Linked DNA regions of Homo sapiens. The protein of the gene in region 2 purifies or fractionates together with the protein of the main gene of each other region. This does not show direct contact. Each region holds a gene or a part of one and is shown on either strand. Other genes may lie near its edges. The genes, in order: CHAF1B, INSL3, IREB2 and RNF123.

Region 1 (7,019 bases), on a different chromosome or scaffold from region 2:
CATGTCCTGGAAAAGCCACTCTTGCTGTTCGCTGCTGTCCGGTCTACTTTGAACTGAGGCCAGTGGTGGAAACAGGTATCCTCAGAGCCTCAGGGGTGTGTTATGTTTTCTCTCCGAAACAGGTCACCAGAGTGGGGTGGAGATTTGGATTCTGTCTTATGGGGAAAGGTGGGTATCTGGGTTTGGTTCAGTTCAGTTATTTTAAAAATATTTTATTTTTACATTTAAATCTATTTATTTATTTATTTTGAGACCAGGTTATCAGCCTGGTTAATTTTTGTATTTTTGGTAGCGACAGCGTTTCACCATGTTGCCAAGGCTGGTCTTGAACTCCTGGACTCAAGTGATCCACCTGCCTCGGCCTCCCAAAATGCTGGGATTACAGGTGTGAGCCCCTGTGCCCGGCCTGGTTTAGTTATTTTTAAAAGCTGGAGCAAAGACTGGGGTTATCAAAATACATGTCAGTTTTTTTTTTTTTTTCTTTCTTCAGGATATATTTTCTTGCTTAAGGCACTTTAAAAGGAATGGACGTACTCCTTTTGTTTGTCTATGTCTCTCATTATCAATTTTCTTTTTCTTTTTTTTTTTTTTGAGATGGGGTCTTGCTCTGTCGCCCAGGCTGGAGTGCAGTGGTGCAATCTTGGCTCACTGCAAACCCTGCCTCCCAGGTTCAAGGGATTCTCCCTCCTATCCTCCAGAGTAGCTGGGATTACAGGCGCATGCCACCACACCCAGCTAATTTTTGTATTTTTAGTAGAGATGGGATTTTGCCATGTTGGCCAGGCTGGTCTCGAACTCCTGACCTCAGGTGATCCACCCACCTTGGCCTCCCAAAGTACTGGGATTATAGGCGTGAGCCATCATGCCCAGCCATTTTCTTTGTTTTCTTGTGCTTGGGGTTCATTGAACTTCGTAGATCTATCCGTTTATAGTTTTTATTACATTTGGGAAGTTTCAGCCATTTTTCCTTCAAATGTTATTTCTGTTATTCCCTTCTCTTATTCAAATACTCCCATTACACATGTATTATATTAGGTCCTTTGAAATTAGTTCCTGGCCTTTGATACTACTTACTTTTTTTGTTTTTTTCTTCTTCCAGTGTTTGATTTTGGAAGTCTCTATAGCTGTGTTTTGAGTTTGCTAACCCTTTCTTCTGCATGCTCTGCCCTTGGTCCCATCCAGTGTGTTTTTCTTTGTTGTGGTTCTCATCTCTAGAGATTCACTTTGGGTTTTCCTTATATATTCTGTGCCTCTCCATGCTCCATTTTTCCTCTTGCTGCTTTCTTTTTTTTTTTTTTCTTGCTCTGTTGCCCAGGCTGGGGTGCAGTGGTATAATCTCGGCTCGTTGCAGCCTTCGTCTCCCAGGTTCAAGTGAATCTCCCACCTCAGCCTCCCAAGTAGCCAGGATTACAGGTGTGCGCCACCACACCCAGCTACTTTTTTTATTTTTAGTAGAGGCAGGGTTTTGCCATGTTGGCCAGTCTGGTTTCGAACTCCTGACCTCAGGTGATCTGCCCGCCTCAGTTTCCTCTTGCTTCTTAAGCATATAGAGTGCAGTTATAATAGCTCTTTTAATGTCCTTGTATACAGGTTGGTTTTGATTTTTTTCTCCTCATTGTGGGTCATATCTTCCTGTTTTTGTTTGCCTGGTACTTTTTGATTAGATACTAGACACTGACTTTTACTTTAGTGGATGCTGGATGTATTTTTATTCTTATAAATATTCTTTTTTTTTTTTTTTGTGACAGAGTCTTCCTCTGCCACTAAGGCTGGAGTACAGTGGTGCAATCTGAGCTCACTGCAACCTCCGCCTCCTGGGTTCAAGCGATTCTCCTGTCTCAGCCTCCTGAGTAGTTGGTACTACAGGCACACACCCCCACGCCTGGCTAATTTTTGTATTTTTGATAGAGACGGGGTTTTGCCATGTTGCTTAGGCAGGTCTCAAACTCCTGAGCTCAAGTGATCCACCCGGCTCGGCCTCCCAAAGTGCTGGGATTCTAGGCGTGAGCCATTGCACCTGGTCAGAAGCCTTGTTTCTGTGGTTTTACTTTGTCTCTGTCCCCAACCCCCAGGTGTGGAGCTGATGAGTCTGCCCTACCGCCTGGTGTTTGCTGTGGCCTCGGAGGATTCCGTGCTTCTGTATGACACCCAGCAGTCCTTCCCTTTTGGTTACGTGTCTAATATACATTACCACACCCTCAGTGACATTTCATGGTGAGTGGCTGCTAATGAGGGAGAGTGAGTGAAGGAGACCGTGGCTGTATCCTGGAAGACACCCCGGGGTTAGGGAGCATTTCATTACTAAAGATGGCTTTGGGGGACATATTCACCAATTTTGTTTCTTATTTATTTTTTTGAGACCAAGTATCACTCTGTCACCCGGGCTGGAGTGCAGTGGTGTGATCTCGTTTCACTGCAACCTCCACCTCCCAGGTTCAAGTGATTTTCATGCCTCAGCTTCCCAAGTAGCTGGGATTACAGGTGCGCACCACTACGCCTGGCTAATTCTTGTGGTTTTAGTAGAGATGGGGTTTCGCCCTGTTGGCCAGGCTGGTATCAAACTCCTGGGCTCAACGATCCTCCTGCCCCAGCCTCCCAAAGTGCTGGGATTACAGGCGTGAGCCACCACGCCCGGCCCCAATTTTGTTTTTTAAAGGAATCAACATTAAAAGGAAAGCCGTTTCTAGTTTGCCACAATACTTGCTTCTTATTTTCACACTGGTGGGTTTTGATGGCATTCAGATTGCCTTGTGGGGTTAACTGGACTTTGATAAACTGAGGGGAGGCCTTGTAGACTCCCTGGCCATTTGGGGACTTCTGAGGCCCTCTGGGAGGAAGCCCTTCCCTGCATGCCCCTGCTGCCCAGGACAGGGAAGTGCCCCAAGCTGGGCCTGTGTAGAGGATGTCACTCAGCACTGTCCTTCTGCCACCTTTTGGTCCCCAATTCAGCCCCCGTGGCCTGCTTGGCCCAGTGTGAGGTTTTTTTTTTGAAACAGAGTCTCACTGTCATCCAGGCTGGAGTGCAGTGGAACGATCGTGGCTCACTACAACCTCCGCCTCCTGGGTTCAAGCAATTCTCCTGCCTCAGCCTCCCGAATAGCTGGGATTACAGGCGCCCACCACCATGGCTGGCTAATTTTTTTGTATTTGTAGTAGAGACAGGGTTTCACCATGTTGGCCAGGCTGGTCTTGAACTCCTGACCTCAAATGATACACCTGCCTTGGCCTCCCAAAGTGCTGGGATTACAGGCGTGAGCCACCGCACCCGGCCTATTCAAGTGAAAATTGCTAGTAGCACAGATAGGTTGCAGCGACTTAGCAAATCGCGATGAAACTGCATGAGTGAGTCGCTATCACACACTCTTTTCCAGTTGTATCTTTTCCCTGGTTTTTGCCTTCAAACAAGCTTGTGATTTTGCTCGAACTTCCCTCTTCTAAGTAGATGTGAGAGTGTTGGTAAGGTCTGTAACTTTTCCCTGTTTTGGGGACGAAGGTCCAGCGATGGTGCCTTCCTGGCCATTTCTTCCACGGACGGTTACTGCTCATTTGTGACATTTGAGAAAGATGAACTTGGAATTCCTTTGAAAGAGAAGCCAGTTTTGAACATGAGAACTCCTGATACAGCAAAGAAAACCAAGAGTCAGACACATCGAGGGTCTTCGCCAGGACCCAGACCGGTAGAGGGAACCCCTGCCAGCAGAACCCAAGACCCCAGCAGCCCCGGCACGACTCCCCCTCAGGCCAGACAGGCCCCAGCCCCAACAGTCATCAGGGACCCTCCCTCCATCACTCCTGCTGTCAAAAGCCCCTTGCCGGGGCCTTCGGAGGAGAAGACCCTGCAGCCCAGTAGTCAAAACACAAAAGCCCACCCATCCCGGAGGGTCACTCTGAACACACTGCAAGCCTGGAGCAAGACAACACCCCGGTAAGAACTTGTTGGAACAAGATGTCATTGCAAAATGAAACACAAAATGCAGACAGAACGCTCCCACCCTGCTGCAGGTGAAATTTCAGGCGGTGAATGCTTCATGCCAGTAGGTTGCCAGAGAGATTCTTAACTTCAAATCCGAGAGTGTCATTTCTTGCATATAGGCCTCTGTTTGTTCCTCCAGTTTCTGCCTGTCAGATAAAGCCCAGGCTCCTATGCACACACACAGACTGTGATTTGGCTGCAGCCTGTCATCCAGGACTGTGGCCACTCTCTCTCCTGAGTCTGTGGCCTTCATCTCCGGCCTAGTCCTGAATGTCATCTTCCCAGAGCACTCTCTGCCCTTTGAGGCCTCTGTCCTTCCCTTCTCTGGGGAAGCCCTGGACACCTCTTCCTCTTGGTGATGCCAGGAGTCTCCTGAAAGACCCATTTCAATGTACCCTCTCTGTTTGCAGTCTTTGTGGCCCTTCAGCCTTTCCCTTGTCACCACACATCAGATTCCATAGCAGGTGCTTTGATGCTCCAGTTCCCCTGCTGGTTGTGAGCCCCCAAGGACAGGAAGCAGGTCCCATTTTTTATTTATGCTGTTCTGCCCAGGATGTAGGCAATTCCAGGAGTGTCTTCCTGAGACTGCGTTTGATGTCTCCAGCAGCCTGGTCGGTGAGAAACGGAGGTCCTGATCTGATAACAAATAATCCCCAGGAGGTGCAGAGTCGTTTCTTCCCTGCTTACATCAGTGTGGCTGGCACGCACGCCTGTGTCTGCCACTTCTACTGGATACAGAGCCACTTAGCACATCCTTCTGCCGTCAGGCAGCACAGCCTCCTGTTTCCATTCTTCCCCTGCAGCTGATGTCCAGTTACCCCTCTGATCCTGTATAGTTCCTTCTCCACCAAGCCCTCTGCCTCCCAACCTTCCCATAAACTGAGTCACGAGGAGAGCTGGGAAGGGGGATGCAGAGGGGAGTGGTGGGGATGGTGAGCTGGACAGAAGCGCCCTGTGCCTCTCAGCCTCTCCTGCGCCAATAGGTCTTCTTTGGCAAGTTCATAATATGTGTATGGGTTGCTGGCTTTAACGCCCTCTTAAAATCTCTCATTTCTTTCTGCAGATTAGCAATGTATTTTACAATTTTTCTGTTTGTTTTTATGTGACGGAAGGTATTCCTTGAACTATTTTTGGTATTAAATTATTTTTCCCCTCTTGATTTCTTCTGAATTATTTACCAAGCTTCTTGAAGATGTAATCTTTTGCAAACAAGAATAGTTGTTGAAAATTAAGACTCTGGGTTTTTATTTATTTATTTATTCATTTGAGACAGGGTCTTGCTCTGTTGCCCGGGCTGGAGTGCGATGGCATGCTCTCTGCTCACTGCAACCTCCGCCTTCTGGGTTCAAGTGATTCTCCTACCTCAGCCTCTCAGGTAGCTGGGATTACAGGCATGCGCCACCATGCCTGGCTGACTTTTTGCATTTTTAGTAGAGACGAGGTTTTGCCATGTTGGTCAAGCTGGTCGAAAACTCCTGACCTCAAGTGATCTGCCCGCCTCAGCCCGCCAAAGTGCTGGGATTACAGGTGCGAACCATCTTGCCCGGCCCAACGCTCTGGATTTTAAAAAAGTATTACCTGTGTTTCGACGCTTTCTATATATAGAAACCATATCTGACTGCCTTTTACAGCAGCCAGCAGAGTGTTCACAAGACCGTCGGTAATGAACAGAACACAGGTTTTGAAACTTTTCGATGACTGGTTATGGTTTAAGTTGACTGTTATAAATGTGATGGTTTAACTTAATACATGAATGTAATCCTCAGTTATTAAACAAGTGGGCACATCTTACTATTTAATGCCTTGAACCAGAAGTTCAGCTGAAAATTTAAGTATTTCCTTTGGTAGTTTTGAAGGTTGGTATCATACATAAACAATTCCTGTGATACTAATGAGCCATCACCCCTCTACTTTTTTTTTTTTAAATCAAGGAGAATAAACTTAACACCCTTAAAGACGGACACTCCACCAAGTTCTGTACCAACCAGTGTGATTTCCACCCCTTCTACAGAAGAAATTCAGTCAGGTAAGTAATATTGTTACTGGTTTAATATAATGAAAGGTAGAGTATCTTTTCTTTTGTTCTTTTGGAAATTAATGCCGCCTAATTTTAAGTCAGTTCTGAGACAGCAGGGATGCATCTTATTGGAACCATTGTTTAAACCCGCCGGCTGCCTGTTTACGCCTCAGCAGGGGGCACCTGGCCAGTGAGAGCATCCTGGTGAGCCAGGGAGTGGGTTCAGCAGGAGATTGTCTAGCTCAGGTTTCTCCACCTGATGACTGCTGACCTTGTGGGCCAGGCAATTCTTTGTTGTGGAGGACTGTCCTGTGTATTATGCGATGTTTAACAGCATCCCCGGCTGCTACTTCTTGCCCATGACATTCTTTTTTTTTTTTTCTTTTTTTTGAGATGCAGTCTTGCTCTGTCGCCCAGGCTGGAATGCAGTGGCACGATTTCGGCTCACTGCAGCCTCCACCTCCCACGTTCAAGCAATTCTCCTGCCTCGGCCTCCCGAGTAGCCGGGACTACAGGCGTGCGCCATCACACCCGGGTAATTTTTGTATTTTTAGTAGAGTCGGGGGTTTCACCACGTTGGCCAGGCTGGTCTTGAACTCCTGGCCTCAAATGATCCACCCGCCTCAGCCTCCCAAAGTGCTGCGATTACAGGCGTGAGCCACCGCGCCCAGCTTGCCCATGACATTCAAAAATGCCACTAGACATTGCCCACTGTCCCTTGAGAGGCAAAATCGCCCCTGGTTGAGAGCCACTCTATAGAACTTCCATTATATCAGTATAGGATCTTGCCAGGCAGCTCAGTTCCGTGTCTTGGCTCTGTATTCTGTAAATGTCAGCCCTTGACTTCCAGAATTCTTCATTTACTTGCCAACCTTATGTTTGTTAATGTTGCAGAGACGCCTGGAGACGCTCAGGGCAGTCCCCCAGAGCTAAAGCGGCCCAGACTCGATGAAAACAAAGGAGGCACGGAAAGTCTGGACCCTTGATGGGACCTCGGCTTCTGCTCGAAGCCTACCAGGCTCCCGGTGT
Region 2 (7,469 bases):
CTGGGACTACAGCACCTAGTTTTGAGTTTCCTGTCTTATTTCCAATGGGGACATTCATGTAGCTTTTTTTTTTTTTTTTTTTTTGAGACGGAGTCTCGCTCTGTCGCCCAGGCTGGAGTACAGTGGCGCAATCTAGGCTCACTGCAAGCTCCGCCTCCTGGGTTCACACCATTCTCTCGCCTCAGCCTCCCAAGTAGCTGGGACTACAGGCGCCCGCCACCACACCCGGCTAATTTTTTGTATTTTTAGTAGAGACGGGGTTTCACCTTGTTAGCCAGGATGGTTTCCATCTCCTGACCTCGTGATCTGCCCGTCTCGGCCTCCCAAAGTGCTGGGATTACAGGCATGAGCCACTGCGCCCGGCCCTCATGTAGCTTTAAATGTATGATCTGACTTCTGCTCCCCGATCTCTGTTTCTCTGGAGGAAGCCAAGGACAAGAGCAGTTGCTGTGGCTGGGACTCTGCCTTTTAGGGGAGCCCGTGTATCTCTTTGGGATCCTGAAAGGGGGCAGGAAAGGCTGGGGTCCCAGTCCACCCTAATGGTATCTGAGTGTCCTAGGGCTTCAGTTTTCCCACCTGTCCAATGGGACCCTTTCTGTCCTCACCCTACAAGGGGCACAAAGGGATGACACCAAACCTGGCAGGAACTTTTCACGCAATCAAGGGAAGGAAAGGCATTCCTGGCAGAGGGAACAGCATGCCAAGCGTGAGAAGGCTCAGAGTAAGGAGGTTAAGAGCCCAAGTATTGGAGCCTACAGTTTTGCCCCTTCCATGCAGTGTGACAGTGGGCAAGTTCCTTTCCCTCTCTGGGTCTCAGTTCTGTCCCCTGCAAAATGGTCAGAGCTTACCCCTTGGCTGTGCAGGGTCAACTTTCTGACTGGTGAGAGGGATTCTCATGCAGGTTAAGCTTCTGCTGCTCCTCCTCACCTGCAAAGCTTTTCTGCCACTTTTGCCTCCTTGGAAAACTCTTATCCATCTCTCAAAACTCCAGCTACCACATCCTTGCAGCCTTCCCTCATATACCCCCACTACTACTGTAGCCCTGTCCTTCCCTCCAGCCCCACTCTGGCCCTGGGGCTGGGGAAGTGTCTGTGTCCAGCTGTCTCCCCTGACCTCAGGGTTCCTTGGGGGCTGGGCTGAGGCCTCAGTACAGAGGGGGCTCTGGAAATGTTTGTTGACTGAATAAAGGAATTCAGTGGAAAAGATTTTGTGCTGGACTTGGGGCGATGGGGAGCCTCAGAGGGTGTGTGAGCTGGGAGGGATGCGGTTAGAGCTGTGGGCCAGAGACCTCTCAGGGAGCCACTGTGGGGGCCCCAGGGCAGGCTGGTGGAGGAGGACCACTGGGTGGGGCTTGGCTGGGGCCCTCAAGGACAGAGCCCCCTCACTCCCAGCCCCAGCTGCTGGCCTTGGCTGCAGCCTGGGGGAGCTGATTACAGGCTCTCTGTGGGTGGGGAAGGAACAGGATGCTCTCCCGGTGGTCAGAGGACAAGGCCAGGTTGGGGGAGCGAGGCTGTGGGGAGGGGACCAGCATCACTGGGGCCGGACCACCTCCCCACCGACCGGCCCCCGTCATGTGCACCTCATAACTGCTAGAAAGATGTGGAGAGTGGCCAGGCTCAGTGGCTCACGTCTGTAATCCCAGCACTTTAAGAGGCCAAGGCAGGAGGATCACTTGAGGTCAGGAGTATGAGATCAGCCTGGCCAACATGGCGAAACCGTCTCTATTAAAAATACAAAAATTAGCCTGGTGTTCTGGCACATGCCTGTAATCCCAGCTACTCAGGAGGCTGAGACAGAAGAATTGCTTGAAACTGGGATGTGGAGGTTGCAGTGAGCTGAGATCATGCCATTGCACTCCAGCCTGGGCGACAGAGCGACTCCGTTTCAAAAAAAAGAAAAATGCGGACAGAGACAGACATACAGAAGGAAACTGAGAGATGAAGGCCGAGAGAGACTCAGAGAGAGAGAGAGAGAGAGATCCCTGTCCCTGCTCTCTTAGCCCCAGAGGGCCCCCTAATTTGGTAGAAATAGGGAGGGAGCTGCTCTGGGGTCAAGCAAGACTCGAGTTCCAGCCCAGGTTCTCTCCTGCCTAGGGTCAAGCATCCTTCCCTCTCTCAACCTCAGATTCCCTCCTTGGAAAAACAAAGCTATAAGACCCCCTAGGCATGAAGCGGGGGCCAAGCATCCACTGAACAAATAAATCCTGCTCTATTCTGGGTCCACCAGCCCCTGCTCACCCAGAGGGGACAACCGTGTTGGGGAGACAGAGCTTCGGATGGGACACCCCCAGCCCTGCGTGTCAGGCGCCTTGAGAAGACCTGGGCTCTGCTCAGCCTCCTGTGACCTTGGGCAAGTTTGGGGTCCTTTCTCTGTGCCTCAGTTTTCTTTTTTTCTTTTCTTTTCTTTCTTTTTGTCTGGTGAGGGGACGGAGTCTCTGTCCCCAGGCTGGTGTGCAGCGGCACCATCTCGGCTCACTGCAATCTCCACCTCCTGGGTTCAAGTGATTCTCCTGCCTCAGCCTCCCGAGTAGCTGGGATTATAGGCATGCACCACCACATCTGGCTAATTTTTGTATTTTTAGTAGAGACAGAGTTTCACCATATTGGGCAGGCTGGTCTCGAACTCTTGACCTCAAGTGATCCACCTGCCCCATCTTCCCAAAGTGCTTGCATTACAGGCATGAGCCACTGCACCTGGCCTGTGTGCCTCAGTTTTCTCATTTGTACAGTAATAGAAACAACAAAATTCTGAACATTTCTGGTCTTGGAAGATGCCCGCTGTCTTCCCCCCTGCCCCCCAGAAAAGGCAGGATTATTACTTTTCAGTTGATCTATTTCATCTCTTTAAACTGGTTAAGACAATAGCGAAGACTTGGCCGTGTGTGGTGCCTCACACCTGTAATCCCAGCATTTTGGAAGGCCGAGTAGGGAGAACCACTTGAGTTCTAGATGAGCCTGGGCAACATAGCAAGACCCCTGCCTCTACAATTAAAAAATTAAAAATGGCCGGGCGCGTTGGTGCACGCCTGTAATCCCAGCACTTTGGGAGGCCGAGGCGGGTGGATCACTTGAGGTCAGGAGTTTGAGATCAGCCTGGCCAACATGGTGAAACCCCGTCTCTGCTAAAAAATACAAAAATTAGCCAGGCTTGGTGGTGGGCACCTGTAATCCCAGCTACTCAGGAGGCTGAGGCAGGAGAATCGCTTGAACCCAGGAAGCAAAGGTTGCAGTGAGTCGAGATCGCACCACTGTACTCCAGCCTGGGTGACAGAGTAAGACTCTGTCTAAAAAGATAAAAATAAAAATTAAAAAATTAAAAATTAGCTGGGCATTGTATTGCAGGCCTGTAGTCCCAGCTACTCAGGAGGCAGAGGCTGAAGGATCGCTTGAGCCCAGGGGAATGAGGTTACAGTGAGCTATGATCCTGCCATTACAGGCCAACCCAGAGAGATCCTATGTCAAAAATGAATAAATACCCTGGTGTGGTCGCTCTCGCCTGTGATCCCAGGACTTTGGGAGGCTGAGGCGGGAAGATGACTTGAGTCCAGGAGTTTGAGACCAGCCTGGGCAACATGGCAAAACCCCATCTCTACAAAAAAAATACAAAAAATTAGCCGGGTGTGGTGGCGTGGGCCTGTAGTCCCAGCTACTCAGGAGGCTGAGGTGGGAGAATTGCTTGAGTCAGGGATAGGGAGGTGGCAGTGAGCCCATATCGTGCCACTGCACTCCAGCCAGGGTAACAGAGCAAGAACTCATCTCAAAAATAAAAAATAAAAATAGGTGGCTGGGCGTGGTGGCTTACACCTGTAATCCCAGCTACTTGGGAGGCTGAGGTGGGAGAATCACTTGAACCCAGGAGGTGGAGGTTGCAGTGAGCCGAGATCGCATCACTGCACTCCAGCCTGGAAGACAGAGCAAGACTTTGTCTCAATAATAATAATAAAAATAATAATAGTCCAGGCACAGCTCATGCCTGTAATCCCAGCATTTTGGGAGGCCGAGGCAGATGGATCGCTTGAGGTCAGGAGTTGGAGACCAGCCTGGCCAACATGGCGAACCCCAGTCTCTACTAAAAATAAAAAATAAAAAAAAAAAAATTAGCCAGGCATAGTGGTGCGCACCTGTAATCCCAGCTACTCAGGAGGCTGAGGCAGGAGAATCGCTTGAACCCGGGTGTCAGAAGTTGCAGTGAGCCGAGATCAAGTCACTGCACTCCAACCTGGGTGACAGAGTGAGACTCCATCTCAAAAAAAAAGAAGAAAAAAATAAAAAAGAAAGACTCGTTGCCCAGTGCTCCCTCTGGGAGAAGTACATCCAAGGCCCTGGCCCTGGGAGAAAGGCTCTGGCACTAACCCCACCCTTGACCTTTTTCCTGGGCGGTCCTGAAGAATGTTCTGTCCCTTCTCCAAGGCCCCCAGCTGGGACGGCCCAGGCGCCTATAAAGGGGGTCCCCGCTTGGCCCCGGCGCCACCCACCACCATGGACCCCCGTCTGCCCGCCTGGGCGCTGGTGCTGCTGGGCCCTGCCCTGGTGTTCGCGTTGGGCCCCGCGCCCACCCCAGAGATGCGTGAGAAGTTGTGCGGCCACCACTTCGTACGCGCGCTAGTGCGCGTGTGCGGGGGCCCCCGCTGGTCCACCGAAGCCAGGAGGCCTGCGACCGGAGGCGACCGTGAGTGGGGACGGGCAGGGACAGCGCTCTGGGAAGCCGAGGTGGGGCAGGTGCACGTAGGCGCAGATGCACACGTGCAGGGAGGTGGGCAGGTTTGCATGCATGTGCCCAGGGCTCACCTGCCGGCTGCGTGCACAGATCGTGGGTCCGCACTGGAGTGTGTGTGAACGCGCGTGTGAAAGTCCCCAGAGCCGTTAGCCAGGCGTGGTGGCTCACGCCTGCAATCCCAGCACTTTGGGAGGCTGAGGCGGGTGGATCCCCAGAGGTCAGGAGTTCGAGACCAGCCTGGCCAAAATGGTGAAACCCCATCTCTACTAAAAATAATTTTTAAAAAAATTAGCCGGGGATAATGATGCACATCTGTAATCCCAGCTACTTGGGAGGCCAAGGCAGGAGAATCGCTTGAACCCGGAAGGCAGAGGTTGCAGTGGGCCGATATCATGCCATTGCACTCCAGCCTGGGCGACAGAGTGAAACTCCGTCTCAAAAAAAAAAAAAAAAGAAAGTCCTCAGAGCATGAGTCCCCCTGAGGGGCCAGAAACAGAGTGAGGCAGGAGAGGTAGGCTCTTGCAAGTACATGGTGAGATCCTGTCTTAAAATTTCAATATTTTGATCTTCATGAATTTTTGCCTTAATTTTGCTTTGTTTGTTTGTTTTTTGAGACAGGGTCTCACTCTGACGCCCAGGCTGGAGTGCAGTGGTGAGATCTCGGCTCACTGCAGGCTCAACCTCCTGGGCTCAAACCATCCTCCTGCCTCAGCCTCTGGAGTGGCTGGGATACAGGTGCTGCCACCACACCCAGCTAATTTTTTTTTCTTTTTCGTAGAGAGGGAGTCTCACTCTGTTTCCCAGGCTGGTCTCAAACTCCTGAGCTCAAGTAATCCTCCCACCTTGACCTTCCAAAGTGTTGGGATTAGCGATGTGAGTCACTGTGTCCAGCTTTAAAAGTATTTAAAAGTATTGCTTTTGAAAAGTATTGCTTTTCACAATTATGTTACTTTATTTTATTATTTTATTTTTATTTATTTATTTTGAGACATAGCCTCGCTCTGTCACCCAAACCAGAGTGCTGTGACGTGATCTCGTCTCACTGCAACCTCTGCCTCCCGGGTTCCAGCAATTTTCCTGCCTCAGCCTCCAGAGTAGCTGGGACTGCGGGCACGCACCACCACACCTGGCTAATTTTTGTATTTTGTTTGTTTGTTTGAGATGGAGTCTCGCTCTGTCACCCGGGCTGAAGTGCAGTGGCACGATCTCAGCTCACTGCAACCTCCGCCTCCTGAGTTCAAGCAATTCTCCTGCCTCAGCCTTCCAAGTAGCTGGGATTACAGGCCACTCCCCAGGTCACCCACTACCATGCACAGCTGATTTTTTTTTTTTTTTGTATTTTTAGTAGAGACAGGTGAACAGGTGAAACAACAGGTTTCACCATGTTGGCCAGTCTGGTCTTGTTTTGTTTTGTTTTGTTTTGTTTTGACATTGAGTCTCGCTCTGTCCCCCAGGCTGGAGTGCAGTGGTGTGATCTCGGCTCACTGCAAGCTCCGTCTCCCGGCTTCACGCCATTCTCCTGCCTCAGCCTCCTGAGTAGCTGGGACTGCAGGCGCCTGCCACCAAGCCCAGCTAAATTTTTTGTATTTTTAGTAGAGATGGGGTTTCACCATGTTAGCAAGGATGGTCTCAATCTCCTGATCTCGTGATCCACCTGCCTCGGCCTCCCAAAGGGCTGGGATTACAGGCATGAGCCACTGTGCCCGGGCCAGGCTGGTCTTGAACTCCTGACCTCAGGTGATCTGCCCGCCTCAGCCTCCCAAAGTGTTGGGATTACAAGCGTGAGCCGCTGTGCCTGGCCTTTTTACAAATATTTTAAATTTTATTTTAAAAGTATTGCATTAAAATACTTACCTTGCTGGATGTGGTGGCTCATGCCTGTAATCCCTGCTACTCAGGAGGCTAGGAGGGAAGATCACTTGAGGCCAGGAGTTTGAGACCAACCTGGGCAATATGAGACTCAGCCTGAGACAGAGACCCTTGTCTCAAAAAAGGGAAAAATATTAATATTATTATTATTATATATATATATTTTGAGACAGGGTCTCACTCTATCACCCAGGCTGGAGTGCAGTGGCGTGATCTCGGCTCATTGCAACCTCTGCCTCCCAGACTCAAGCAATCTGCCCACCTCAGCCTCCTGAGTAGCTGTGACTAGCTACTCTCAGGCTGGTGAGACCAGCCTGGCCAACGTGGCGAAACCTCGTCTCTACTAAAAATACAAAAATTAGCCGGGCGTTGTGGCGCACACCTGTAGTCTCAGCTACTCAGGAGGCTGAGGCAGGAGAATCACTTGAACCCGGGAGGTGGAGGTTGCAGTGAGCCAAGATCACGCCACTGCACTCCAGCTTGGCAACAGAGCGAGACTCCATCTCAAAAAAAAAAAGCTGATGCTGACATTTGGGGATGTATATGGTAGTGGGGCTGTCCTGTATATTGTAGGGTGTTAGATAACATCTCTGTCTTCTGCCCCCTAATGCCATGAATAGCCTCACACCCCATCCAAGTTGTGACATCTAAAACTGTCCCCAGACAAGTATCCCCTGGAAACAAAATCACCCTGGTTTGAGAACCACTGGTGTCAATTGTAAACTGCAGATTGGGTAGAGGGTAAACAACCCTCTAAATTTTCATAAGTCCTTTTTTTTTTCTTTTGAGACAGTCTTGCTCTGTCACTCAGGCTGGAGTGCAGTGGCACGATCTCGGGTCACTGCAGCCTTGCCTTCCCAGGCTCAAGCGATCCTCCCACCTCA
Region 3 (7,976 bases), on a different chromosome or scaffold from region 2:
ATACAATTGATTGTGTTGTATCAATTACATTTCCTGAATTTGATCATTTTTAGTAGATACATGATAAAGTACTCAGGACTGAAGGGTCATAATCTCTAAAATTTACTCTGAAATGGTACCAAAAAAATGAGAATAAGAAATAGCCAGGTGCAGTGGCACACATCTGTAGCCCCAGCTACTTGGGAGGCTGAGGTAGGAGGATTGATTGAATCCAGGAGTTGGAGGCTACAGTGCACTATGATCTTGCTGTGAATACCTACTGCACTCCAGACCAGGCAACACAGTGAGACTGTGTCTCAAAAAAAGAAAAAGAATAAGAAATAATGAGGATCTTATCTCTGAAATAGCAGAGAGGGAGAGAGAGACAAGGCAAATGTGGCAAAATGTTAACAGTAAATAAATAAACCTAATTAAGGTATATATGAAGTTTTATTATAATTATCTTGCAATTCTTCTGTATTCTTGAATTTTGTTTTTCGAAATAAAATGTTTAATTTAAAAAGTAGAGATGGGCCAGGTGCAGTGGCTCATACCTGTAATCCCAGCACTTTGGGAGGCCAAGGTGGGCAGACAGCTTGAGTACAGAAGTCGAGACCAGCCTAAGGAACATAGGAAAACCCTGTCTCTACAAAAAATACCAAAATTAGCTGGGCATGGTGGCGTGCGCCTGTGGTCCCAGGAACTCAGGGGCTGAGGTGGGAGAATTACTTGAGCCCAGGAGATGGAGGTTGCAGTGAGTCGAGATCACCCCACTGCACTCCAACCTGGGCAACACAGTGAGACTCTCTCTCAAAAAAAAAAAAGGAGAGGTGAACCAGCCTGGACATTGCCCGAGACACTGATCTAAAAGGGTGCTAAAATCTCACTGGAAATGTAACTTGAAAAAAAATGTATAGTGAAAACATACCATAAGCTTCCATTTGCATAGCATTCAAAATAGGGTGTAGGGGATGAGGAAATGGCAGCCTAGGAGGAAAACAGCTGCGGTTATAAAACGGCAACAGGAAGGATCCTTGGAAATGTTCCATATCTTGACTGTAGTGATGGCCACACAAAGCCACACACGTGAACTAAATACACACGTGCATGTGCGCGCACACACACACACACACACACACACCCTACAAAGGAGTACATGTAGAACTGCCTAAATCTGAGTAAGGTGGAATGATTGTATGAATGTCAATTTGCTCGTTTTTATATTGTACTATGCTACATGGAGAAAGACTAGGTGAAGAGTATACGGGATCTTTATTACTTAGTACAACTACATGTAAATCTACAATTGTCACAAAATAAGAATGTTTAACAATAGGTAAATTTTATGATATTTAAACTAAATCTCAATAAAACTGTTAAAGCTGACTGAGATGGCATATGCCTGTAGTCCCAGCTACTTGGGAGGCTGAGGTGGGAGAATCCCTTGAACTCAGGAGTTTGAGATCGGTCCAGGCCAAATAAACAGACCTCTGTCTTAAAATAAATAAAATTTTCAAAAAGTAAATAAAACTGTTAAAAAAAAAAAAAAAGTAATGAGTCCAGCCACACGGGAGCATATCATGATTGTTCTAAGTTAGTGCTTCTCAGTGGAAGCGGGACACTGAGAAAATGGGTGTTTTTGTTTGTCACCATCATGGGGCACTTTTGGGATTCAATGAATGTTAGATTGCCTGCATTCCACACTATAGAATTACACAACAAAGAATCAAACAAGGGCCAGGCCCGGTGGCTCACGCCTGTAATCCCAGCACTTTGGGAAGCTGAGATGGGCGGATCACGAGGTCAGGAGTTCAAGACCAGCCTGGCCAACATGGTAAAACCCTGTCTCTACTAAAAATATAAAACTTAGCTGGGCATGATGGCACGTGCCTGTATTCCCAGCTACTCAGGAGGCTGAGGCAGGAGAATTGCTTGAACCGGGACCCGAGGGGCGGAGGTTGCAGTGAGCCAAGATCATGTCACTGCACTCCAGCCTGGGCTACAGAGCAAGACTCCGTCTCAAAAAAAAAAAGAATCAAACAAGACCCATACTGTCAGATATTCAAGTACATTAAACATACACACAAACATAAAAACAGTAACAACAAATTTGTTTATAATTATCTGAGCCTAGAGTTTAACCCCATATACAAGTAAAAACAAAAGTAATTTGTGTATGGTTTTAATATATACGGAATTTTCTAGGAATACAACTATTGCATAAAAAAAGCAAAGGTTTTTTTTTTTTGTTTTGAACTTTATCAAGAGTTATTCACCATTTCAGAAAATCACAATAGTGACAACACTTCCAATATTTAAGTCACTAACATATTTTCATTAGTCTTTAGAGGCCATTCATGATATATATGTACATTTTATACATATGTGCATTTACCATATATGCATTCATAATATATATTTATGCATGATATGTATGTATATATTGAATCCTTATTTTGCAATGTCAGACATAAAAAGTGTTGACCATATTCAGCTGAATATTATCTTTTTTTTTTTGAGACGAAGTCTTGCATTGTTGCCCAGGCTGGAGTTCAGTGGTGAAATCTCGGCTCACTGCAAGCTCCGCCTCCTGGGTTCACGCCATTCTCCTGCCTCAGCCTCCCGAGTAGCTGGGGCTACAGGCGCCTGCCACCACGCCCGGGTAATTTTTTGTACTTTTAGTAGAGACGGGGTTTCACCGTGTTAGCCAGGATGATCTCCCATCTCCTGACCTCGTGATCCGCCCGCCTCAGCCTCCCGAAGTGCTGGGATTACAGGCGTGAGCCACCGCCCCGGCCTTATCTTTTTTTGAGACAGGGTTTCATTCTGTCTCCCAGGTTGGAGTGCAGTGGCACAATCATAGCTCACTGTAATCTTGAATTTCTGGGCTCAAGTGATCCTCCTGCCTCTGTCTCACGGTAGCTGGTACTACAGGCATGCACCACTATGTCTGGCTAACTCTTTAAGTTTTTGTAGAGACAGGGTCTCACCATGTTGCCCAGGCTAGTCTCAAACTCCTAGCATCAAGCGATCCTGCAGCTTTGGCTTCCCAAAGTGCTGGGATTACAAGCTTGAGCTACCAACTGTGCCTGGCCCAGTCGAATATTATATGTCCTGTAAAACCAAACTCATTCGTTATAAATAGATACAAGCATCTGACTACTCAATTTTGTCATCTAATATAGACATGCCTGTGCAGCTACGTATTATAATACATATTATTTTCTAATAAATTACTTTCCTATTTTTCTCCTTTATATTACAGTTAGGTCATTAAGTAGATTATTTATCGTGTATGTAGATTATATTACCTATGAATTTCATGCTGGGATTGTAAAGGAGATGTTACAAAATATAGCAAGGTGAATAAAGGAAATATATTGGAGTTTGGGTTGACAGGGCTTGGATCAATGATTAAAGGGAGTGGATGAAGGAGTCAGGTATAATGTGTTGATTTCTGGCTTGGGCAACCAGGTGGATGGTGGCGCCATTCGCTAATACAGGCAATACAAAAGGAATAGTAGGTTTAAGGAGGGAAATGACGAGTTCAGTTTTGGAGATTTTTAGTTTGAGGTGCCTTGGGATGTGGAGGCATCCCATGGGTACTAGGATATACACCTCCGGGTTTAGGAGATAGGCTCAGGTCACAGGCAGACTGGGAAGCATCAACATATTAACTAATAACTGAAGTCAAAGGAAGTGTGAGATGGGCCAGGGAAAATGGACAGAGGGAGGAGGTACAAGGCCAGAGCCCTGGGACACATTTAATGTCCAATATATTTTTTTTTGAGACAGGGTCTTGCTGTGTTGCTCAGGCTGGAGTGCAGTGGTGCAATCATGGCTCACCACAGCCTCAATCTCCTGGGCCCAAGTGATCCTCCCACCTCAGCCTCCTGAGTAGCTGAGACTACAGGTGCATGCCACCACACTCAGCTAATTTTTAAATTTTTTTTGTAGAGATAGGGTCTCACTACGTTGCTGTGTTTGGTCTTGAACTTTTCAGCTCAAGCCATCCTCCCACTTTGGCCTCCTAAAGTGCTGGAATTACAGGCATGAGCTACTGTGCCCATCAAGTGCCCAGTACATTTAAAAGCTGGGCGGAGGAAGAGGTCTGCAGAGGAGCCTGAGATCAAGCACCCTTAGGAGAAGAAACAAAAGTAGAGTCTGAAGTCACAGAAGCTGATGGAAGAGTATTTTTCAACAATGGGAGAGAACCAGTCAAGATTGAGATATGTGAGATTAGAAAGTGGAGTTATAGCTGGCCTTGGCTAAAGGCATTTCTGGGAGTGGAAGCCAGACTGGAAGAGGATAAGAAGTGGGTGGGGGAGAGCCGAGTATGAGCGACTCTTTCTGGTAAGTTGCTGCGACAGGAGATAATGCTGGGTAGGTGGAGAACACAGGGACCGGAGGAGCTGAGGCGGAAGGATGGAGAGGCTTAAGCATGTGTTAACTGCCACTGGGAAGAAGTCGGCAATCACGGAAGCTACCGGAGGGTAAGAAAAAATTCATTCATTCAACAGTTGAGCGCCTCCCACGCGCCCGATCAGTATGGCCGCCCCCACTTGAAAACACGCGTGTGGGCCGCCCACGTCTGACAAGTTAATGCAAGGCTTTATAGTTAGGGGAAAGCGGTTCTCCTTGAGCTCTTTCTCCTAGCAGTTCCGATTCCGACCCTGACTCCAACAGACACCTTGCGGGAACGCAAACACCGCTCGAATTCATGACCCCAATAGAAAACTTAAGGCCGCAACTAAGTAACGGATCGCTGCGAAGGCCAAACTAGCCACGCCAACGCCCCCACTGGAGCCTCCCCAGCGCTCCGCCCCCGCTCGCGAGAACAGCGGCGACGGCGCGAGAAATCGCTTTCTGGTTAGCTCCGCCCCTTCCCTTTCTTTGTTTTCCTGTCCGACGATCTCGCGGGAGTTAGGCGACAAATCCCGCGAGCGCAGACCCGGGGCTGGCTCTGCTGCTCTCGCGATATTTGCGCGAGCCTGCTTCCTTCTTTCCTCCCTTGCCAGTCCGCCTGTCTTCCTCCCCGTCTTCCCTGCCCGGCCTCCCCCTTCTTCCCCCGCTGGCCCCCTCCCCGGAGGGATAATATGGTCTCCGGCGATGGACGCCCCAAAAGCAGGTCAGTTTCGGGCCTCCGAGCTGGGTCTGGCAGTTGGAAACGCGCGCTGCCTAGGCGCCGAATTCCTTGCTTTTCTCGCCTGGAGTCGCTCGGCAGGCGCCCAGGCCCTCGGGGCTCGGGTTGTGCTCCCCTCGGGGCCTGCCTGCTGGGCCGCCCTTTGAGCCTAGGCCGCGGAAGCTGGGGCTCCCGATCCCCACCCTCCTGCGCGACACCCGCAGGGCGGGCCACCCCACCGCTGGCCTTGACCCGCACCCCTCTCTCTCCGGTGGCCGCTGCCTGCTGCCAGCGGCTTCCTGGCCCCCGTCAGCAACACCAGGGGCAGGGAGAGGCCCACCGTCTTCTCCTGCCCGCCCCCCATTGGCGAGCGATGAAGGCGGGGGCCTGCGTCTCCGTGTTCGGGTCTCACGCAGCTAGATGTTGATTCCACGGTCCAGCCTAAGGCCCCTCAGTCTCTCTGTGCCTCTGGAAGCCGAATGAGGGGCAGTCAAGGTTGAACATTGGTCAGTCAGTTCTCCGACCATTTATTGCACCGCTGTCTCCTCCCCCGTCCACCTCCCTCTACAAAAAAAAAAAAAGAGAAAAAAATACTATTCATTCTGAAAATGGGCTGTGCTTATGTTTTCTCCTTTTGGATGAAAGCCTTAACAATGTTGAGGGTCCTGGCCACCCACCGCTATGAGTCTGCACAAAAGATCTGAAGGTTCTTTTCAACCTCAGGGCTGCCTCCCCGCCACTGCCCCCTAGAATGTTGGGAGCTGAGGCACGTTTAAATGAGACCTCTGGATCTTTGACTTAGTAGTTCAGCTTCAGTTCGTGCAAAACCAGAAGACTTGTCTCTTTCGGGTAGAATATGCTAATTTCCTAGAGATTCTGTTACTTTTATTTTCAGTACTAAGCCCTGGTAAGGACTTAACTGAGAAGTTTTTTTGTTTTGGTTTATTGAATGCTCTGTAAAAATCCGTCTTTTAGTTTTTTTTTTTAATCAGTCCCTCTAATGTTAATTGTGGAATTCACAAATTCCTGTCTCTGCAGTTTTCAAGACATGTCTTTCCAAAACGTCCCCGTGGATTATTTAAATCATTCTTATTGTCCCTTTCCAGGTATTCTTATCACATTTCAGGAGTGAATTATCTTACTAGTTTTTACTTGACAAATTATGGTTTAGAACTATGCTTTCCAGTGTGGTGGATACTAGCCCTGTGTGACTTTAAATTAATCAAAATTAAATAAATTAAAAATTCAGTTCCTCAGGCACGATAGCCACATTTCAGGTGCTCAATAGCCACACGTTGCTAATGGCTACTTTACTGGACAGCTCAAACATAGAATATTTTTACCATTGCAGAAAATTCTATTGGATAAAGCTAGTTTCCAGGTATTTTCAGCTGAATAAAATATTTTGTTGCTGCATTTAATGAAAATACAATTTTTTTTTCAGGATACGCCTTTGAGTACCTTATTGAAACATTAAATGACAGTTCACATAAGAAGTTCTTCGATGTATCTAAACTTGGCACCAAGTATGGTAATGTTGCTTTACATTTTCTTGGGTTTGTTTAGTCTCTAATAATGAAAATGCATTTGTCAAGCTGAGCTGAAGAAATTTTAAATGTATTTCCACCGTATTGTAACAGGTACACCTACACATACCTATACCATTTTAAAAACTCCTCCTGGGACAACTTCTGTTCAGGGAAGATGTAGGCCCACACCTTAACTTCTCATTTAAAAATCTAAGTTAATTAAGCACTAGTTTTTCCCCTCAAAGAAACCAATAATGCAGTTTTCAAACTTTTTTTTTTCTTGTTTTTGTGAAGACAGGGGTCTTGCTATGTTACCCAGGCTAGTTTTGAACCCCTGGGCCCAAATAATCCTCCCACCTCTGCCTCCCCAAGTTTTGGGATTACACATGTAAGCTACTGCGCCTGGCCTAATGTGATTTTTAGAAGAACCTGACTGACTGATGATAATTCTACACCAATTAAATGTATATTTTATTTTCTCTTTTCTTTTCTTTTTTTTTTTGAGACAGAGTCTTGCTCTGTTGCCCAGGCTAGAGCACAGTGTTGTGATCATAGCTCATACAGCCTTGAACTCCTGGGCTAAAGCAGTCCTGCCTCTGCCTCCCAAGTAACAAGGCCTACAGGTGTATGCCAACACATTTATATAAAAACATATTTTTATATTTTTTGTAGAGTTGGGGTCTTGCTGTGTTGCCCAGACTAGTCTCAGACTCCTGACCTTAAGTGATGCATCTGCCTCAGCCTCACAAAGTATTGGGATTGCAGGCCTGAGCCACTATGCCTGGCCTGTTTTACTTTGTCAAATGAACAGTGCCCACATCTATTCTTTTTGCCATCTGTTGAATAGGAATCACCAACAGGACCCATTGATTTGAATTTTTCTGAAGTATTGGGCATGGTTTGCCCCAACCTACACACCTGCAGTTTTGGCAGACATTCTCATTGACCTTATCAGGGTCAAACCTTTCTCTGTGGTCTCAGAAGAGTGAATGTGGGCGACCTATAGGGCATTGAATGGAAGTTTTGACTTTACTAACAGTTGAGTAACTTTCTCAATTGGGCCAATAGAGAGACCTCTTTAGAAGACTCATTATTCTTTGTGAACTTTTCCATGACAATGACATGAAAAGATAAATTGAATGCCACATCTGTTGCAGTCAGTTTTGGAAGGAGCTTTAATCTTGTTTTTTCTTGCATTATTTAATTAAGACGATTGTTCTTGTGATTTTTCTGTAGATTTTGAGGAATTTAAATATTCTTGACTGCTATGTGCAATATTTTTTGTGTATTGTGAAATACAGCTATTTTGGAGTATCTTAAAGAATCCCCATTTTAGAATTAGGCTG
Region 4 (7,122 bases), on a different chromosome or scaffold from region 2:
TAAAGGGCCTGACCCATAACTGGCCCAACTCCTAACCTGGGGGGTCCAGGATTGATGGCGGCTGGTCATCAGCTGAAAGACAAAGTTCACTGGGGTTAAGGGAGCCAGCCTTTGGGTGGGGGCTGAGGCAGGGTCATGGGGGAAGCGTCACTAGTGCTCACCGCAGCGTCGCAGGGCACAGTAGTCGAATGGGGTCCTTGGGTCCATCGTGTAGCACCAGGGCCCATGGCTATCCCCATCTGGGTTCCGGCAGAAGTTCTCCTCCAGTTGTGCATGCGGTTCGGAGGTAAACGTGAACCTAGGCGGAAGCGGGAGCAAAATCGTGGCAGGGTAGTCTCAACCATTTCCAGGCTCTGGTCCCAGACACCAAAGCATGCCGCCCCAGGGTTAGGGCCCTGGCGGGGCCGGGAGCACCAGGGACTCACTGCGGCTTGTGCGGCGTCTCAGCGGACCAGCGCTGGCACTGGACACCCTTGCGGGTCTTGCTGACCGTGCCGCGGTACTGCTCCCCTGCGCCGTGGTAGCAGTCTGTGGCGGGTGCGGGCAGCCATCAGGCCGAGACCTCGCCCCGGCCCTCCGGTTCCAGGCTTCCAGCCCGGCTCTGTAGCCCCCAAGCTTGGGCCTCACCCTGGGGCCGCACGTCGTCTGTACAACGCCGGATCTGGTAGCAAAAGGCCGCGCGCATGCCGGGCCGCAGTGTGAAGCACCAGGGCGCCTCTGAGCCGTCGGGGTTCCGGCAGAAGTTCTCCCGAAGGTCTCTAAGCAGGCGCTCCACTCAGCCCTAGCCCGCCAGCCTCCAGCCTTGAGCCCGTGACTACCTTCCTCCCGTCTCACCCGCAGCAGCACGTCCCAACGCCCGCCCCCCCCCCCCACCTCACTTGCACGCGTATTTTTCTGGCGTAAATCGGTGCTGATGCGGGATTTGCGCGTCCCAACGCTGGCAAGGTACGCCCGCAGTGGTGGTATTGGCTGTGCCCCGGTAGCCCTCACCCTTCCCGCGGAAGCAGCTGACAGTTGTGGCCTCTTGGCGGGGCTGTGCCTCGGACCCTTAGATGGACCGAGATAGGTCGGGCCCCGAGCGAGAGCTGAGATCCCTCTGGGGCTGGGACCAAACCCGCCTTTCCCAGGTGTACGGTACTCCACGGGGTATGCTCTCAGGTCACGCCCAGCCCCTCTTACCTCCCCGGCCAAGCCACGCCCCTCCCCAAGGTTCCCAGGTACCCTCCCAGGCCTGGTCCCCGCCGCCTACCGCAGCGGGGGAGGTCACAGAACTCTCGCTCGATCTGCGGATCCGTAGTGTAGCACCATGGCCGCTCGGAGCCGTCAGGATTCCGGCAATAGTTGTCGTCCAGACCTTGGTCGAGGAACCTGGGGGCGGTAATGGGGCGTGAACAAGACCCTGGGACTCTGGCTTATCTGGCCCCGCCCAATTGCCCTACACGGAGCCCTGCCCCTGGAGTCCTGGACCTTCCCTAGCCCGGCCCCCAGGACGCCGATACCGCCTACGCGTACTTGCCCGGCTCGAAGGGGTGCTGGTGCGGGTGCTGAAGATCCCAGCGCTGGCACTCGCGCCCTGACTCCGTGCGGTCTACCGCGCCGCGGTATTCCTCGCCATTGCACCAGACACACGCGGCTGGAGACAAAGAGCCAGTGGGTTCGTGGATGGACGTGGGCTTGTCCCTCCACTCTCCCAGCTTGACCCGGCGCCGCTTACCCTCCCGGCAGGATTTGATGCCGCAGCTCTGGAAGCGCACAGCAGGGTCTGTTGTGTAGCACCAAGGACCTCCGGGGTCGCCATCAGGGTTACGGCAGAAGTTCTCTTCCAGGCCATTCCGGAGAGTGGGCGTGTACCTGAGGGCCCAGAGCATCACTATAGTGTGTGCTGGGGGAAGGCCCCAGGCCGGGACGGAGGGAAGGTGTTTGTCTCACTTGTGATCATTTGGGAACTTGTGGCTCCAAGCCTGGCAGGGCAGGCCACCCACGGTCGTGGCCATGGTGCCCCGGTACCCAACCCCATTGTTCATGATGCAGGTCCGTACGTAGTCTGGGAGCAAGAGACAGAAGATCAACTTGGGCTGAGGTCCCCTGTCTCCCACCCTGCCCCTCTCCACCCCCACTTGCCTTTCTTCTGGAAGAGGTCACAGCGCCCAGAACGCCGCAGCCTCGTGTGGGGCGAGTGTTGAGTCCATGGCAGCAGTTGGCAACCATGGCTGCTCACGTTGTAGTGGAAGGCCCTGGAGAGAAGAAGGCACAGGGTAACGCCACAGCCCAGGCTTCCCTGCCCCCAGTCTTATCTAGGCCCAGTGGCCACTCACCGGCAGTCCATTAAGGGCCCACAGCGACCAGCACACTCTTCAGCATCTGCCACATCCTCCTGCCAAGGCCCGGGCACCACCGCATGTAGCAGGTGCTGTAGCTCTGTGCCCCGGAGCACTTGGAAGTCATTCAATGGCGAGCGCTGCCCTGCAGAGTAGGCATGAGTGGGTGCAGGTCAGGTGGGCATACATGTCAGTAATGTGTATTGGCATGTCCACACTTTGTTCATTCAGGGGATCAAAGCTACAAGGCTTCTGGGATGGACCCTGTATGCACTTTCAAGGGCCAGTCTAGCCCCCTGCACAGATACTTGTGAAAAAAATTTCCCCTGGGAAGCAGGCCCAGACTTGGTAGTTATCACCGGTGCCTCTGTTTAGTGGCCCAGGCACCGGGCTCAGATCTAACACATACGCTCTGTGAGAGCAGTGGGTGATGAAGCTTGCCCCACCTCATCTCTCAAATGAGAATGCTAAGGCTCAGAGCCATCACATTACCCAGCCAGGGGCCCTGGCTAGGCATTCAGACTCCAAATCTGGGCTCTCACCTGCACAAAGGCATATGCTAGGTTAGAGGGGTAGATCAGGCTCAGGAGGGGTCACTGCCTGCTGTGTGCGTGCATCTGTGTGGTCCTGACACTGCTTCAGTGCTAGAGCAGACGTGCTAATAGAGGCCTAAGTGGGCAATGTCTATGTGTTCCTAGGGCTTCCCAGCTGTGCTCAAGAGGGCAAGGTCACTGCCCCATGCCCACTGAGCCTCTGGCTCCCCGACTTTTTTCTCATCCTAGAATAGGAGAATGGGGCCAACCCCCTCCTGAAGGCAGATGGGGATCAGGGTTGGGGGCACTTACCAGGGACCCCTAAGCATTGAGTCAGAAGCAGCAGGAGTGGGAGCCACCCCATCCTTCTGGCTGGAGGCTGCACTGTGACCCACCACAGCCCCATCCGGGAAGTTGTGAAACCTGTCCCTACGGGATTGGGTGGCTCTGGCTCCACACGTCAGCTCAGGGCCTGCTGGACCCTGACCTGAGACCTGGTGACAGGAGCCATGAGGGGCCAGGCCTCAGGTCCCATAGGTCAGTTGCAAGGGCCTAGTACAGCTTAGTGGACAGGTGTTAGGAAGGTTTGGTGGGGACACTTGAGGTGCCCTGGGGTTGGGGTGAAACCCCTCTGCAGCCTAGTCAGCCCAAGGGCATTGTGAAAGTGAGAGCTGCCAGAGGTCTGGGCTCCAGCCCCTGGGTGACATTAAACTTTTCTGAATTTCGGTTTTTCCCTGTAAATTGGGGAAAATTACTTGCCCCAGCTTCAACACTGCCTCCCCTCCACCCTTTTGCTGCTGCCTTATCAGGCCCCAGCTGTAGGCAGGTCAGCCCACACCCGGCGGCAGAGCCCAGAGAGGCTCGCTCATCTCAGCCGCCAGAAGTGTCATCCCAGGGAAGGTGAGCGAGGCTGTCCACTAGGACTAAATAGGGGTGGAGGTAACAGGTAGCAGGGACTCTGGCAGGAACGGCCTTTCAGACGTTTTAAGGACCGTCTGAGCGGGGCCTCTAAGTATGGGTAGGAGACAGGCGGCCTAGGGATTCCGGTTAGCATGTCGCGTTCTGCCGCAGCAGGGCTGGGAGCATCCCCAGAGCAGGCGGAGGTCGGAGGTGGTGAGGCCTTTCGGCGAAGCTGAGGCCTGGAACAACCCGGTGGGAAGCCATGGAGGGGGTCCCCTAGCGGAGGCTGGGCGCGGGCCAGTGCGCGTGCGCGGCTGGAGGCTCAGCGCGCAAGCGTGCGCGTGATTTGGCCCTGAACGGACGCCGTAGCCAAGAGGTTGGGCGGATGTTGTGAGCCGGGTCGCTGCGGCCGAGGCTCCGGGTGAGTGAGGGGCGGCAGGGCTCTGAGCCTGGCGGGTTCCGGCTATTCCCTTCGCGGTCCGGGCTAGTCCAGTGCGAGGGCACCTGCAGCGCAGGGATCTGGGTGCGAAACTCCGAGCGGAAGCTGGTCTGGCAGGTCCTGTGGAGCTTGGGGCCAGGCGGGGGCGACTTGGGGGAGCCATGCGCCGCCCTCGCCGTCCTTGGGCTCCCAGACGGAGTAGGTTCAGTTCTGAGTCCGGATACCCCGGCGGGGTTGGACGGGATAGCCGTGACAGGGAGTCCCCGGGCGGGGACAAGGTCCGCCTCTCACCTGGGTCCTCAGCAACTGACTCCCGGAGCCCACTCCGGGTGTCTGGAAGGTCTGCTCATCAAATGAATGACTGAGTTTAATCAGATCTTCAACTACTCTGGTAGTGAAGGGGCACCGATCATGGACGCCCACCGAGGGCCCGAGGTCGGGAAAATCACCTTCCCGAGGAGCAGGCGTGGTGCAGACCCACAAGGGTTTGTGGCGGGAGTAGAGGGTCTGTTTGGGGTGAGATAAGAGACTGAACTGCAGAGTAGGGAGTGCTGGCTAAGGCAGTGCTGCAGAGCGAAACTCTAGACCTGCGCTGTCTAATAGAACTTTATATGATGGTGGGAACGTTCTACCTTTGTGCTGTCCAACAGAGTAACCATTAGCCACATGTGGTCATTGAACTCTTGAAATGTGGCTAAGGCAACTGAGAAATCGAATTGTTAATTTTTAAAACTTTAAATTTAAGTAACCTCATGTGGATGACGGCTGCTGTGTTGGACAGCACCGCTACACATCAGTGAGGCCAGCACCAGGGACTCAGTGCAGGTTCTGGAGCAGCTGCAGCAGCAACATGATGTGAGGGATAGATGCACTAGGAGGACCAATGGAGTTTGCCATGAGGGCTGGGCAAGGGTGGTGCTTGGATGAGGTGGGAGGCCACATGTGTGAGTGGGAATGGTGAAACTATCAGGACCATGGATAAAAGAAGGGAGGAACCCAGGGCTGAGGAAAGAGGCTCCAGCCTTGTGGGGAGTAAGTGGGACTTATGGCTAGAGATGACCAGACCAGTGGTGGTCTGCACTTGGGGGAATGTGTAGGATTGTCGCTTCTGGTTGTGAGCTGGACTCAGTATGGCTTACAACTGAGATGGATACAGGGGCTCTGCCCCTAGGACACCTCACTTTGGACATTTTGGTCTGATTTCCACAGAGCTGAGACATTTTGTTATGGTTCGGCAAAAATATATCTAGTACCTGCTCTCTGCCCAGCCCTGTGCTGGGCACAGGGACACTGGAGAACAAGAAGTGGTCCCTGTTACATGGGCCTAGACCCTGGCTACCCTCCCTGTGTAGGAAGCTGGGAGCCCCTGCATTCCCCTGCCCTATGTGTTAGTGTGCATGCCCCTGGCCTCACCTGCTCCCAAGCCTTCCTGCCATGGCAGGACTGAGGTCAGGTGTGGGGGCCCCTGGCTGGCCCTGAGTAGACAGGCTCTGTGTCTGGCTCAGCCCCCAGGACCACTGGCTGCCCATGAGAGATGAAGGATGGCATCCAAGGGGGCCGGCATGTCTTTCTCCCGCAAGAGCTATAGGCTGACCTCAGATGCTGAGAAATCCAGGGTCACAGGTAAGAGCTGGCAGGGAAGGAAGGAGGCTCCTCTTGTTGGGAGGAGAAGGAAGGGACAAAGGCCTCAGGCCTTGCTGCACCTGTGGCTGGCCTAGGACCAGAAGTCTCTGGGGCCAGCAGGGGCCAGGAGCTGCACTGATCATGTGGCCCTTTTCTCCCTTCTGACTTGTGGCTCAGGCATTGTGCAGGAGAAGCTGCTGAATGACTACCTGAACCGCATCTTTTCCTCTTCTGAACATGCACCCCCAGCAGCCACCAGCAGGTATGGCTGGGTGGGTGGCCCCTCCTCACTCTGCTGGGCCAGACCAGAATAAGGAGGCTGCAGTTGTAGGGAAAGGGAGCCTGGGCTCTGGACAGATAGGCTTAGGCTCTGTTCTCACTGTGCTCCTGGCTGCGAGATCTCTGGCCAGAGAGTCTGCCTTCCGTACTCTGCTTCTTCCTGTCTCCAGGCAGTGCTAGTTCCTTCTGAGAGTCAGGGAGCAGAGGTCAGGGAGCGGGTGCACATTCATGCCCAGCTAGCACCTGGCACCTACTCCATACCCAGCATCTGCCCCTGCATGTACCTGCCCTCACCTTGGCCCCAGCCTGGCCCCTTGTAGCTTCTGACTGACCTTGTAAAGAACAAACTCCTCCAGGGCCTTTTCTTTACAAGTTTAATACTTTTAAGTGTAGTCAGTATAAAAGTTACAAGTACATTTTAGCAGAAACTTAGAGGGCCAGGCACAGTGGTTCACACCTGTAATCCCAGCACTTTGGGAGGCCAAGGTGGGTAGATTGCTTGAGTCCAGGAGTTCAAGACCAGCCTGAGCAACATGGCAAGACCCCATCTCTACAATAAAATACAGAAATTACCTGGGCATGGTGGTGTGCACCTGTAGTCCCAGCTGTTAGGGAGGCTGATGTGGGAGGATCACTTGAGCCTAGGAGGTTGAGGCTGCAGTGAGTTGGCCTCTGCATGCCACTGCACTGTAGCCTGGGTGACAGAGCAAGACCCTGTCTCTAAAAAAAGAAGGAAAAGCACCTGCTATCTTGTTATTTTAACATGACTATTCAAATGTGATTCTTTTCTGTTTCTTTCTTTGTGTTACATTTTTAATTTTTAATTTTTGTGGGTATGTAGTAGGTATATATATTTATAGGGTACATGAGATACTTTGATACAGGCATGCAATGCGTAATAATCACATCATGGTAAATGGGGTATCCATCCCCTCAAGCATTTATCTTTTGTCTTATAAACAATCTAGTTATACTCTTTTAGTTATTTTTAAATGTACAATTATTATTTACTATAGTCACTCTGTTCTGC

Evidence for each region.
Region 1: the proteins of INSL3 (region 2) and CHAF1B purify together in Homo sapiens (affinity purification with mass spectrometry; 3 studies listed by BioGRID and IntAct, with this or other methods). This does not show direct contact.
Region 3: the proteins of INSL3 (region 2) and IREB2 purify together in Homo sapiens (affinity purification with mass spectrometry; 3 studies listed by BioGRID and IntAct, with this or other methods). This does not show direct contact.
Region 4: the proteins of INSL3 (region 2) and RNF123 purify together in Homo sapiens (affinity purification with mass spectrometry; 3 studies listed by BioGRID and IntAct, with this or other methods). This does not show direct contact.

What each region holds. Positions count from the first base shown.
Region 1 is NC_000021.9:36,409,391-36,416,409, forward strand, and holds part of CHAF1B (chromatin assembly factor 1 subunit B), read left to right. Parts: coding exon 1-75; intron 76-2,072; coding exon 2,073-2,214; intron 2,215-3,493; coding exon 3,494-3,925; intron 3,926-5,904; coding exon 5,905-5,999; intron 6,000-6,884; coding exon 6,885-6,976; 3' UTR 6,977-7,019. UniProt on the Homo sapiens protein: Acts as a component of the histone chaperone complex chromatin assembly factor 1 (CAF-1), which assembles histone octamers onto DNA during replication and repair.
Region 2 is NC_000019.10:17,818,516-17,825,984, reverse strand, and holds the start of INSL3 (insulin-like 3 isoform 2 precursor), read left to right. Parts: upstream 1-4,465; 5' UTR 4,466-4,478; coding exon 4,479-4,668; intron 4,669-5,494; coding exon of another isoform or gene 5,495-5,589; intron 5,590-7,469. UniProt on the Homo sapiens protein: Seems to play a role in testicular function. May be a trophic hormone with a role in testicular descent in fetal life. Is a ligand for LGR8 receptor.
Region 3 is NC_000015.10:78,433,250-78,441,225, forward strand, and holds the start of IREB2 (iron-responsive element-binding protein 2), read left to right. Parts: upstream 1-4,966; 5' UTR 4,967-5,088; coding exon 5,089-5,107; intron 5,108-5,171; exon of another isoform or gene 5,172-5,607; intron 5,608-6,545; coding exon 6,546-6,632; intron 6,633-7,976. UniProt on the Homo sapiens protein: RNA-binding protein that binds to iron-responsive elements (IRES), which are stem-loop structures found in the 5'-UTR of ferritin, and delta aminolevulinic acid synthase mRNAs, and in the 3'-UTR of transferrin receptor mRNA.
Region 4 is NC_000003.12:49,685,435-49,692,556, forward strand, and holds the start of RNF123 (E3 ubiquitin-protein ligase RNF123), read left to right. Parts: upstream 1-4,122; 5' UTR 4,123-4,172; intron 4,173-5,695; 5' UTR 5,696-5,731; coding exon 5,732-5,813; intron 5,814-5,990; coding exon 5,991-6,075; intron 6,076-7,122. Other genes in the region: MST1 (hepatocyte growth factor-like protein isoform 2 precursor), read right to left, coding at 37-72, 162-298, 426-528, 628-758, 879-1,047, 1,250-1,368, 1,517-1,633, 1,715-1,851 and 4 more. UniProt on the Homo sapiens protein: Catalytic subunit of the KPC complex that acts as E3 ubiquitin-protein ligase. Promotes the ubiquitination and proteasome-mediated degradation of CDKN1B which is the cyclin-dependent kinase inhibitor at the G0-G1 transition of the cell cycle.